2 separate regions of the Homo sapiens genome follow, and region 2 is linked to region 1. The links come from fine-mapping of genetic effects on gene expression. A gene starts in region 1. The other region holds a variant in brackets. All regions are shown on one strand. Distances are from middle to middle.

Region 1 (5,217 bases):
TTTGTTGTCAGGCTGGAGTGCAGTGGCGCGATCTCGGCTCATTGCAACCTCCGCCTCCCAGATTCAAGCGATTCTCCTGCCTCAGCCTCCCGGAAGTAGCTGGGACTACAGGCGGGGGCCACCACGCCCGGCTAATTTTTTGTATTTTTAGTAGAGATGGGGTTTCACCATGTTAGCCAGGATGGTCTCGATCTCCTGACCTCGTGATCCGCCCACCTCGGCCTCCCAAAGTGCTAGGATTACAGGCGTGAGCCACCGCGCCCGGCCCCCTTGGGGAAGATTCTTAACTGCTCTGGCCTTGGGTGGCCTCTTTTGTGAAATAGAGTTGATCTCTTTTTCATAAGGCAGTCCTGGGGTTTACCAGTGATGGGGCATGTTAAATGCCTGGCAAAGGGTTAGAACCCAGCTAACAGTAAGGTTGCCTGGCCCCTTGACAGAATTCTAGAATTCCACAACCTATTCGTCAGTCCACCTCTCCCCCAATAGAACACGAGACCATACAGTGGAGCCCAGTCCAGGACACTGAGGCTAGGCTCAGCAGTGCCTTCCAAATGCCCTGACTGGGGGTACCCCAGAATCCTCTGGAGTCTGAAGATGGGGTAACAATTTGGAGGTCTCTGTGATAACTCTCTGTGATAACCAAGTTATCTGCAAAATCCCTTTTTCCTCCAGGAGTGCTCTGAGGGGCAGTTCTTGCTCTCAGGAAGCCTCCTAAGGGATGAAGCCACACGGAGTGGCGAACTTTTCAGGTGGACCCGAATTCTTGGAAGCCCAGAGAAAACAAATGAAGGTGTTCATTTTCAGAACATATAGCTGTGCCCAGAGGCCCGCGTGCTTGCGGCTCCCCTTAGAGGCATCTACATTGGCCATGCCCATCACCACTGGCCCCCACCCCCGATATCTCACACTGCCCAGAGCCACCGAAGTCCCAGACTAGCCCTTTCCTGGCACATGATGCTTGGGCTTCCTAAAATGCCCCTCTTCGTGCCACTTTGCCTGAAAGCTCTTCATCCTTCAGAGCCAGCCAGGAAGTCACTTGCTCCTGACACTTGTCCATAATTCCCAGCTCCCATGCACTCGGCTCATCAGCTCCCACCAGGATTTCCCTCACTTGCCATTTAGGCTGGCTGTGGTCTGATGGCCTCTCCACAGTCCAGGAGCAACTTGAAGGCAAGAATGGCATCCCACCCCTCTTTGTACCCTCCTGTTTGCCAAGTGATATAGGGGCTGAATAAGGTTGAAGTTGTTGGGAATAAAAAGAACGAAATCCAGAGTATTCCCCGATTTTAAGAAAAAATGGGTTTTGTGTTTGTGACAGAAAGAAAAATGGCACGGGGGGGGTCACAAAGACCAGCGCTCTAGCCAGAACTGCCCCATGGTTGTCATGTGACCTTGGACAAGTCACTTATTTTCCAGTGTCTTAGAGATGCCTTATCTGTAAAATGGAGACACTCATTCCTATCGTGTCTAACTTGCCAGGCTGTGGTGAGGTCACATGGCTCTGTGCGTAAAAGGTACACAGTGCAAACGTGCTGGAATGTCAGGGATGCTATTAAGGAAGCAATAAGAAGAAAGGGTCACTGGGTGTGTGGCGAAGGAGAAGTGGAAAGGGCGCCAAGATTTTAGGCCTCAGTGACTGGTATGGAGGGTTCTCTGGGTCCTCTCAGTCCCTGTTTATGGAGGGCTGGGGGCTTGGGTCTAGAGAATTTCTCTCTGAGAAACTACGCCCCCGGGGGAATCGGCCCCCCCAGCCCTGCGCCAGAATCCCCTGCAGCAAGTTTCGGAGCAAGGCCTCCTCCATGCTTCCCTCCCAGTCTTGCCCAGCGCCCACTGATGAGGAAGGGCCTCTGCGGGTGAGACCTGCTTCCCTCTCGGATAGCCAGGGCTGATGATTTCAACTCATTAATCATTCCGAACTCTTCCCAACAAACAGCCTCATGGCTGTCCCGGACCTCCTCTGTCCCGGCTCAGGAAATGATCTCGGTCGGAAGTGAAAAGACCAAATCGGCCCCAGGAGGCCATTTTCTTCGACAGAAGCTGAGGCGTGGGGGCGTGGCCTTCCCCCGCTTCCCCCTCCACTCCCCCGCCCGCCCCCGGCCCCGGCTTTCCGATCTCGGCCCAGGGAAGAGCCTTGGTCGCGAATCACCAGTTTGCATTTGCCCCTGGGGCGGGGGCGGCTTTCTGAGACCAGGCTGGGGCTGGGACTCCGCCACCTTCAGCTAAGGGTACCGAGGTCAGTCCGGGAGTCGCGTCACCGGGACTCGAACCCGCCTCTTCGTCTTCCGAGGCCTAGTGCGAGCCTGCGGCGCTAAACGCAGTCACACTGTCCCTTTAAGGCGGCACTTTTTATTCTTCATTTGTTTACTTCTTCATGCGCTCTTCGGTCTTTACAAAATGTGCTCGCGATATCCTTCCGCAAGTGTCAGTCTCAGGCACTCACCACCCGCCTTGAAGCCATTTCTATAATCTTAAGACTCGCGAGTTAGCAGCCGTGGGCCGACGTCTCTCTTTATAGGATTTAATTCTTTTACATTTTAGGGACTACTTTTTAGGAATAAACCATTCTTGCGTTAGTTAATAAAGGTTCATAACCTTCGGAACCCCTCCGCTGAGAACAAAATACGATAATAGCCTTTATAACGCACCTTTTCATAAAAATATTCTGTGAGGACTCTCATAGGCCATCGAATCTTCTCGTATTCCTGAAACAGAATGGTACGGTCCAGAACCCGCCCCATCTTCTCTGCGATTGGCCGTCCTTCCTCAGCGAGTCGTGTGATTTTTCACCAATGGCCGCTCGCGTTTCTTTAGCGAGGTCTAAGCGATGGAAGGTGGCGGCCAGGGAGACGCCCCCTACGCGTCCTGGGATTGGCTACGTCGCACGGCGCGCGAGGGCGGCGGGCCCGAAAGATAAGAACTACGACTCCCGGCGCCCCGCAAAGGGAACTCCGTTACGCATGCGCACGGGCGGGGCGAAAAAGCTTCTATATAAAAGGGGCGCAGAGGACTGGGAGACAGCAGTTGGAAGTTGGCAGGTGGAGAGGCAGGTTGGGAGGGAAAGTCGGGGGAGGACGCGGAAGAGGAGCTGTGGGAAGGGGGAGGAGGGAGGGAGGAAAAGAGGAGGAGGCGGAGGAGAACTGAGCAGAGCAGAGCATCGAGCCAAAGGGGAGATGAGTTTGTCTGTCCTCTGCTGAGGCTACGGCCGGGCCTAGGGAACTGGGAGCTTGGGTGGAAGCGACACCCGTGGAAGTGGGAGGAGGTGGCGCCGGGACTTTAACCCCTTGTGGGCTCTGCGGCAGGGGATTTAACCCTTTGTGGATCTGGCCCCTCGGAGGCAGCGTCATCGGTAGTTTTAACCCCTTCGGGGCTGGGTTTCACGCACTGGACTTACCCTCATCACCTTGCTCACCAACTCCTTTATTGGGGTGCTCCGCTTGGAGGTTTGAGGCCCACCTCCGCCCATTACGTACTGTTCCTGCCGCTGCACCCCCTTGGACCCGCTAGCTGGCCGCACTGTGGGCGCTTAACCCTTTACTGACTTGAGCTCCCCAGATTGCAGTTGGAGTTTGCTGATAGAAGGACTAGCTAAAGGCGTCACTGCAGGAATTACAAACTGAAGAGGACTCTGTTGGACTGTTTTTTTTTTCTTTTTCTTTTTTTTAAGAAAAACCCATTTTTTTCCTTAAGGACTTACTAGCCAAAATTTCTTAAACTTCGAGGACTCTACTAGCCATGGCCGAGCCATTCTTGTCAGAATATCAACACCAGCCTCAAACTAGCAACTGTACAGGTGCTGCTGCTGTCCAGGAAGAGCTGAACCCTGAGCGCCCCCCAGGCGCGGAGGAGCGGGTGCCCGAGGAGGACAGTAGGTGGCAATCGAGAGCGTTCCCCCAGTTGGGTGGCCGTCCGGGGCCGGAGGGGGAAGGGAGCCTGGAATCCCAACCACCTCCCTTGCAGACCCAGGCCTGTCCAGAATCTAGCTGCCTGAGAGAGGGCGAGAAGGGCCAGAATGGGGACGACTCGTCCGCTGGCGGCGACTTCCCGCCGCCGGCAGAAGTGGAACCGACGCCCGAGGCCGAGCTGCTCGCCCAGCCTTGTCATGACTCCGAGGCCAGTAAGTTGGGGGCTCCTGCCGCAGGGGGCGAAGAGGAGTGGGGACAGCAGCAGAGACAGCTGGGGAAGAAAAAACATAGGAGACGCCCGTCCAAGAAGAAGCGGCATTGGAAACCGTACTACAAGCTGACCTGGGAAGAGAAGAAAAAGTTCGACGAGAAACAGAGCCTTCGAGCTTCAAGGATCCGAGCCGAGATGTTCGCCAAGGGCCAGCCGGTCGCGCCCTATAACACCACGCAGTTCCTCATGGATGATCACGACCAGGAGGAGCCGGATCTCAAAACCGGCCTGTACTCCAAGCGGGCCGCCGCCAAATCCGACGACACCAGCGATGACGACTTCATGGAAGAAGGGGGTGAGGAGGATGGGGGCAGCGATGGGATGGGAGGGGACGGCAGCGAGTTTCTGCAGCGGGACTTCTCGGAGACGTACGAGCGGTACCACACGGAGAGCCTGCAGAACATGAGCAAGCAGGAGCTCATCAAGGAGTACCTGGAACTGGAGAAGTGCCTCTCGCGCATGGAGGACGAGAACAACCGGCTGCGGCTGGAGAGCAAGCGGCTGGGTGGCGACGACGCGCGTGTGCGGGAGCTGGAGCTGGAGCTGGACCGGCTGCGCGCCGAGAACCTCCAGCTGCTGACCGAGAACGAACTGCACCGGCAGCAGGAGCGAGCGCCGCTTTCCAAGTTTGGAGACTAGACTGAAACTTTTTTGGGGGAGGGGGCAAAGGGGACTTTTTACAGTGATGGAATGTAACATTATATACATGTGTATATAAGACAGTGGACCTTTTTATGACACATAATCAGAAGAGAAATCCCCCTGGCTTTGGTTTCGTAAATTTAGCTATATGTAGCTTGCGTGCTTTCTCCTGTTCTTTTAATTATGTGAAACTGAAGAGTTGCTTTTCTTGTTTTCCTTTTTAGAAGTTTTTTTCCTTAATGTGAAAGTAATTTGACCAAGTTATAATGCATTTTTGTTTTTAACAAATCCCCTCCTTAAACGGAGCTATAAGGTGGCCAAATCTGAGAACAATTAAATTCATTTTAGTTATAATAAATTTAATATTTGTAAATGTAACATAGTTTCAGTGTGATTTCTAGA
Region 2 (5,233 bases), 560 kb before region 1:
CCCATTTTCTAAGTGAGGTTCTAAGAAATGAAATCACTGGCAGCTGGCTCACTGATTTGGGGCCAAGCCCAGGTCTTCTGAACGTAAGTCTAGTGGTTATTCTGCTATGCTGCTTGGTCACTTATGAGGCTGGTGTCTAGAGTCATTACTGAGTCTCCAAGTCCCCACTGTCTGCCCCATCCTTGACCCACACAAGTGCCCTGTTCAGTGTTCTGAGGGAAGGCGGAAAGACTCATGCTCAGGACTCAGGCTTCCCAGGCTCCTCATGCTGTTCCTAGGCTTGGTTTGACACCTCTCTTCCCCTATCCTGCCTACCCCTCCCACCCACACCCTCCTAGCCCCAGCTGACTTAGAGGCAGGGAGAGGGAGGCAAGGCCAGAAGGCTTTTGTTTTTCTACGATGGAGAGATGACTGAAATCCCGCCATCTCCCGCAGAAGACAGAGGCAGCTCTGGATTTCCTGTTGCTCTCAACACGGGCCAGATAATTGGAGACAGATTTTGGACTTGGGTTGGGAGGTGAAGTTTGAAATACAGTCGTCAGGCCTCCTGTAAGTTCGTGTGTGTGAGTGCACACTGCTTGGTTGGGGTTTTTTATTAGCTATATGTGTATCTGTGTGTGTGTGCAGATACTTGTATTGGAAATAGTGTATTGTGTCTAGTGTGTGCATGTGTGTTTGTGTGTATTGTATCTAGTGTGTTCATGTGTGTATTGTGTCTAGTGTGTGCATGTGCGTTTGTATGTATTGTGTCTAGTGTGTTCATGTGTGTTTGTGTATTGTGTCTAGTGTGTGCATGTGTGTGTATTGTGTCTAGTGTGTGCATGTGTGTTTGTATGTATTGTGTCTAGTGTGTTCATGTGTGTTTGTGTATTGTGTCTAGTGTGTGCATGTGTTTGTATATGTTGTGTCTAGTGTGTTCATGTGTGTTTGTGTATTGTCTAGTGTGTGCATGTGTGTGTGTACTGTGTCTAGTGTGTTCATGTGTGTTTGTGTATTGTCTAGTGTGTGCATGTGTGTTTGTGTATACCGTGTCTAGTGTGTGCATGTGTGTATGTATTATGTCTAGTGTGTGCATGTGTGTTTGTATTATGTCTAGTGTGTGCATGTGTGTTTGTATGTATTATGTCTAGTGTGTGCATGTGTGTTTGTATGGTGTCTAGTGTGTGCATGTGTGTTTGTATTGTGTCTAGTGTGTTCATGTGTGTTTGTATTGTGTCTAGTGTGCATGTGTGTTTGTGTGTATTGTGTCTAGTGTGTTCATGTGTGTTTGTGTATTGTGTCTAGTGTGTGCATGTGTTTGTGTGTATTGTGTCTAGTGTGTTCACGTGTTTGTATTGTCTAGTGTGTGTGTATTGTGTCTAGTGTGTTCATGTGTGTTTGTGTATTGTCTAGTGTGTGCATGTGTGTGTATTGTGTCTAGTGTGCATGTGTGTGTATTGTGTCTAGTGTGTTCATGTGTGTTTGTATGTATTGTGTCTAGTGTGTGCATGTGTTTGTGTATTGTGTCTAGTGTGTGCATGTGTGTTTGTGTGTATTGTGTCTAGTGTGTGCATGTGTTTGTGTGTATTGTGTCTAGTGTGTTCACATGTGTTTGTATTGTGTCTAGTGTGTGTATTGTGTCTAGTGTTCATGTGTGTTTGTATTGTGTCTAGTGTGTTCATGTGTGTTTGTGTATTGTGTCTAGTGTGTGCATGTGTGTTTGTGTGTATCGTGTCTACTGTGTGCATGTGTTTGTGTGTATTGTGTCTAGTGTGTTCATGTGTGTTTGTGTATTGTGTCTAGTGTGTGCATGTGTGTTTGGTACCTGTGCTCCTTGTACATCTTTAGTGTTTAAGACTCCGCGTGTATGTGTATGTGTGAGAAAGTATGTAAGTGTGTGTCTGGGGCTCTGTGAGTGGCTCCCTTGTTTTGTTTAATTTTTTTTCCTTTGTGAGATTCAGTCTGGCTTGGAGAGTCCCCACCAGTCCTTTCAGGATCTTATTACTCACGACTTGGTGATTAAATGTAATACAATAATTAAGATTTTTTTTTAAAAAGGAAGGAAGGCAGATGGCCTTCGGGGAGATAACATGAGGGGTAGAAAGCAGCCAGAGTGCCTTGAGAGCAGACAGCCAAGGGTGAAGGGGACCTGCAGGGCAGAGGGGCTCTTTTAGGAGGTACAGACAAGGCCCCAGTTTCCCCCCATCTCTCTGATGGAAAAAGGCAACACGCGCTTCCACAACGGTTTAGCTGCCTCTACCCCTGAAGGTTGGGCAGGGGAGGGGCTCCTATTGCCTTCCTGCCTGAATCTCTACCCTGGAAGAAGAATCAAGCCCCTTTCTTCTAAAGGCCTACGTGCACATTCACTAATGCGAATTTTGCTATAAATGACATGCAGACCAGTTAG[G/A]AAGTAGTCTTCTCATAACAACAACCACAGCTAGCCATGGTGTACCTGCAGCACATCAGACTCCAGCTGGGTACTTTACATGTGTTTTTGTATCTGTGTGTGTGTGTGTAAAATCACTTATAAGCTTGTTATTACCTTTTTGCAGAGGAAACTGAGGCTTATGATAGATGAGTAAGGACTTTAACCCTTCATGGTGATAGTTCATTTGTTCATCCAACAAATGTGTATTGAATACTTTTTTTTTTTTTTTTTTGAGACAGGGTCTGGCTCTGTTACCCAGGCTGGAGTACAATGATATGATCTTGACTCACTGCAGCCTCCACCTCCCAGGCTCAAACAATTCTCCTACCTCAGCCTCCTGAATAGCTGACACTACATGCGTGCGCCGCTACGCCCGGCTAATTTTTTTTTTTTTTTTTTTTTGTAGAGACGAGGTTTTGCCATGTTGCCCAGGCTGGTCTCGAACTCCTGAGCTCAAGCAATGGACTGCCTTGGCCTCCCAAAGTGCTGGGATTACAGGTGTGAGCCACTGTGCCTGGCCCCCATGTATTGAATACCTATCTGCTCAGGCACTACGCTAGATATGAGGGACACAGAGGTGAACGAGACATAGTCCCTGCCCTCACAGAATCCACTCTCTAGGGAGGGAATCGATGCTTCAAACATTGAAGTTCTCCAGCCTGGACAACATAGCGAGACCAAATCTCTAAAAAAAAATTAAAAATTAGCAGGACATGATGGTGTACACCTGCAGTCCCAGCTACTCGGGAGGCTGAGGTGGGAGGATCATTTGAGCCTGGGAGGTTGAGGCTGCAGTGAGCCATGATCGCACTACTCCAGCCTGGGCGATAGGGTGAGAGAGCAAAAGAGAGAGAGAGGAAAAAAGACAGAGGACACAGGGAGGTAGGGAGGGAAGAAGGAAGGAAGGAGGGACGGAAGGAAAGAAGGAAGGAAAGGAAGGAAGGAAAAAAGGAAGGAAGGAAAGAGGTTGAAGTTCTTCTCACTCTTTAGTTGGGGCAGACCATTCCCAGTGCCAGTGCAGCGGTGGCTGTTATGGGGCTGAGGACTTTTTGGACTGGGGCAAGATTTACTCCCCAGATTAGCTGTTCCTCATAAAGAAATTTCCAGTGAGGACTGGATAGGGAGGAGAAGGCATGGCAGACATGGAGGGGGATAGATTTGTGTTCTGGGGGCTTGAGAGTGGAGGGGAGGAGAGGACACAGCAGTGGCCTGCTTGCCCACTCATCTGCTTCGTAGCCTGGCATTGGCTGGGAGACACGGTGTCCTCAGATGGTCCAGTCCCCCTGGCAGGAGGAAGAATCACGACGGAGTTACCCATGCCCTTGCCTCTCCAGATGGGTCTCTGAGAGCCCAGAGTGGTGGGTTGGGGAGGGTAGGGTGGGGGTAGCGACCCTCCCTGCTTCTGGCGATCTGACTCAGTTCCCCAGGGCAGCTGCTACAGCACCGCTGCAGCCTTCCTGGCCTAAATCGCTTCCAGCTTGTTTAGTCGAAATCCTTGGCCCCAACATCAAAGCCCCTTTGGAGTTTCTGGGGATTGCTGTTCTTATATGGTGTTTATTTCAGAGATGGTTCTGTTGTCACTGGCTGCATGGGGTGGGGCAGGAGGGGCTTTGGAGGCCCTTGGGTTTCAGAGACACCAGGTTAGGCGGGTAGAGGGACAATTTCCATGACAACTGCCCCCAGGATACTATCTCCCCCATGCCTGCCTCTACCTGGGGCATAGGTGCACAGAAAGGGAGGCTGCCTTCTTCCCTGCCCAAGGCCCCAGAGAGGAGCTTCTATTCCCTTCAATTGTATGCCAGACATTTTAGTCTGGGCTCCCAGGGGTCAAGGCCATGCCACCCCCTGCCCTCCCATCCCAGCCCTCATCTTAGAACCTATGAGCTCACTCCAAGCAAACAGCTCTCCATCTCCAGCATCAGCTTAGCCCTCTATGCCTGGGCCAGGTCCCAGCTCCTTCACCTGCATGCCCCTCCTTCAGAAGGGCCTTTTCTTCCTCTTCTTTCACTCTGATTAGCTGGATGCCTACTTGGGCTATTGGAATTTCCATTTGGCTCTGGAATCTGCACCTTTTTGCCTCTGAGTTTGCAGGTTCCAGCAGGTCCCTTCCTTCCTGCAACTTGTTCCTCAGTGCCTAGCACAGGGGAACACACAGAGAAGAGGGGATGCTCTGTTCAAGTTGAGGCAGATGGGGCTGACAGTGAGGAGGTGCGGCTCATGGTTTGGGTGGAGGTAGAGCTCCTAGGAGTCTCCCCAGGAAAAACCGGTAGATGAAGAAGCCAACTCTAGGTCTCAGCCATTGTCTAGAACAAGAACGAATGAAGGAAAGAGACACAGGGAAAGAAGGAGGGAGAGAGAGCGAGGAAGGGATGAGGATGTGTATGTGTAACAGGGCCAGGTTACAACCTGGCTTACAAAAAGCTTACAACCATGATCTACAGGGACAGACTCCTTCTGGACTGACGTTCACTTTCCCGAACGTTCCTAGGAGTCAGAGGGGGTCTCCGGACTCCCCTCAACCTTTCTACCCTCCCCCTACCACCTCATCTGCCTCTGATTTTTACTCCTATCATCTTCCTGGGCTATGCCCTTCTTGCCCCCTTGCTTTGTCAATGTCCCCAGACAAAGGGAACTCCTGGTGTACCAGTGGCCACCTTTTTTTTTTTTTTTTGAGACAAAGTCTCTCTCTGTTGCCCAGGCTGGAGTACAATGGCGCGATCTCAGCTCACTGCAACCTCCACCTTCTGGGTTCAAGTGATTCTCCTGCCTCAGCTTCCCGAGTAACTGGGATTACAGGCAACTGCCACCACGTCTGGCTAATTTTTG

What was found. PIP is the estimated chance that this variant, and not a neighbour inherited with it, causes the effect.
Region 2: its variant is the best candidate, but not a certain one, in a credible set for the expression of HEXIM1 in whole blood (TOPMed, PIP 0.71).

The regions. Positions count from the first base shown.
Region 1 is chr17:45,145,459-45,150,675 of GRCh38, forward strand. HEXIM1 (HEXIM P-TEFb complex subunit 1) reads left to right here and starts at 3,017. Exons shown (of 1, transcript NM_006460.3): 1 at 3,017-5,217. The coding sequence starts at 3,733. The coding sequence ends at 4,812. It overlaps HEXIM2-AS1 (HEXIM2 antisense RNA 1), which reads right to left. Exons shown (of 3, transcript NR_186789.1): 3 at 4,204-5,217. RefSeq lists enhancers at 1-382, 2,120-3,002, 3,406-3,455, 3,506-3,555, 3,606-3,715 and 2 more.
Region 2 is chr17:44,589,440-44,594,672 of GRCh38, forward strand. No RefSeq gene overlaps it. Among named protein-coding and RNA genes, the nearest start is that of FZD2, 35 kb to the left of the region's middle. The variant G/A (reference allele first, on the strand shown) is at 2,387.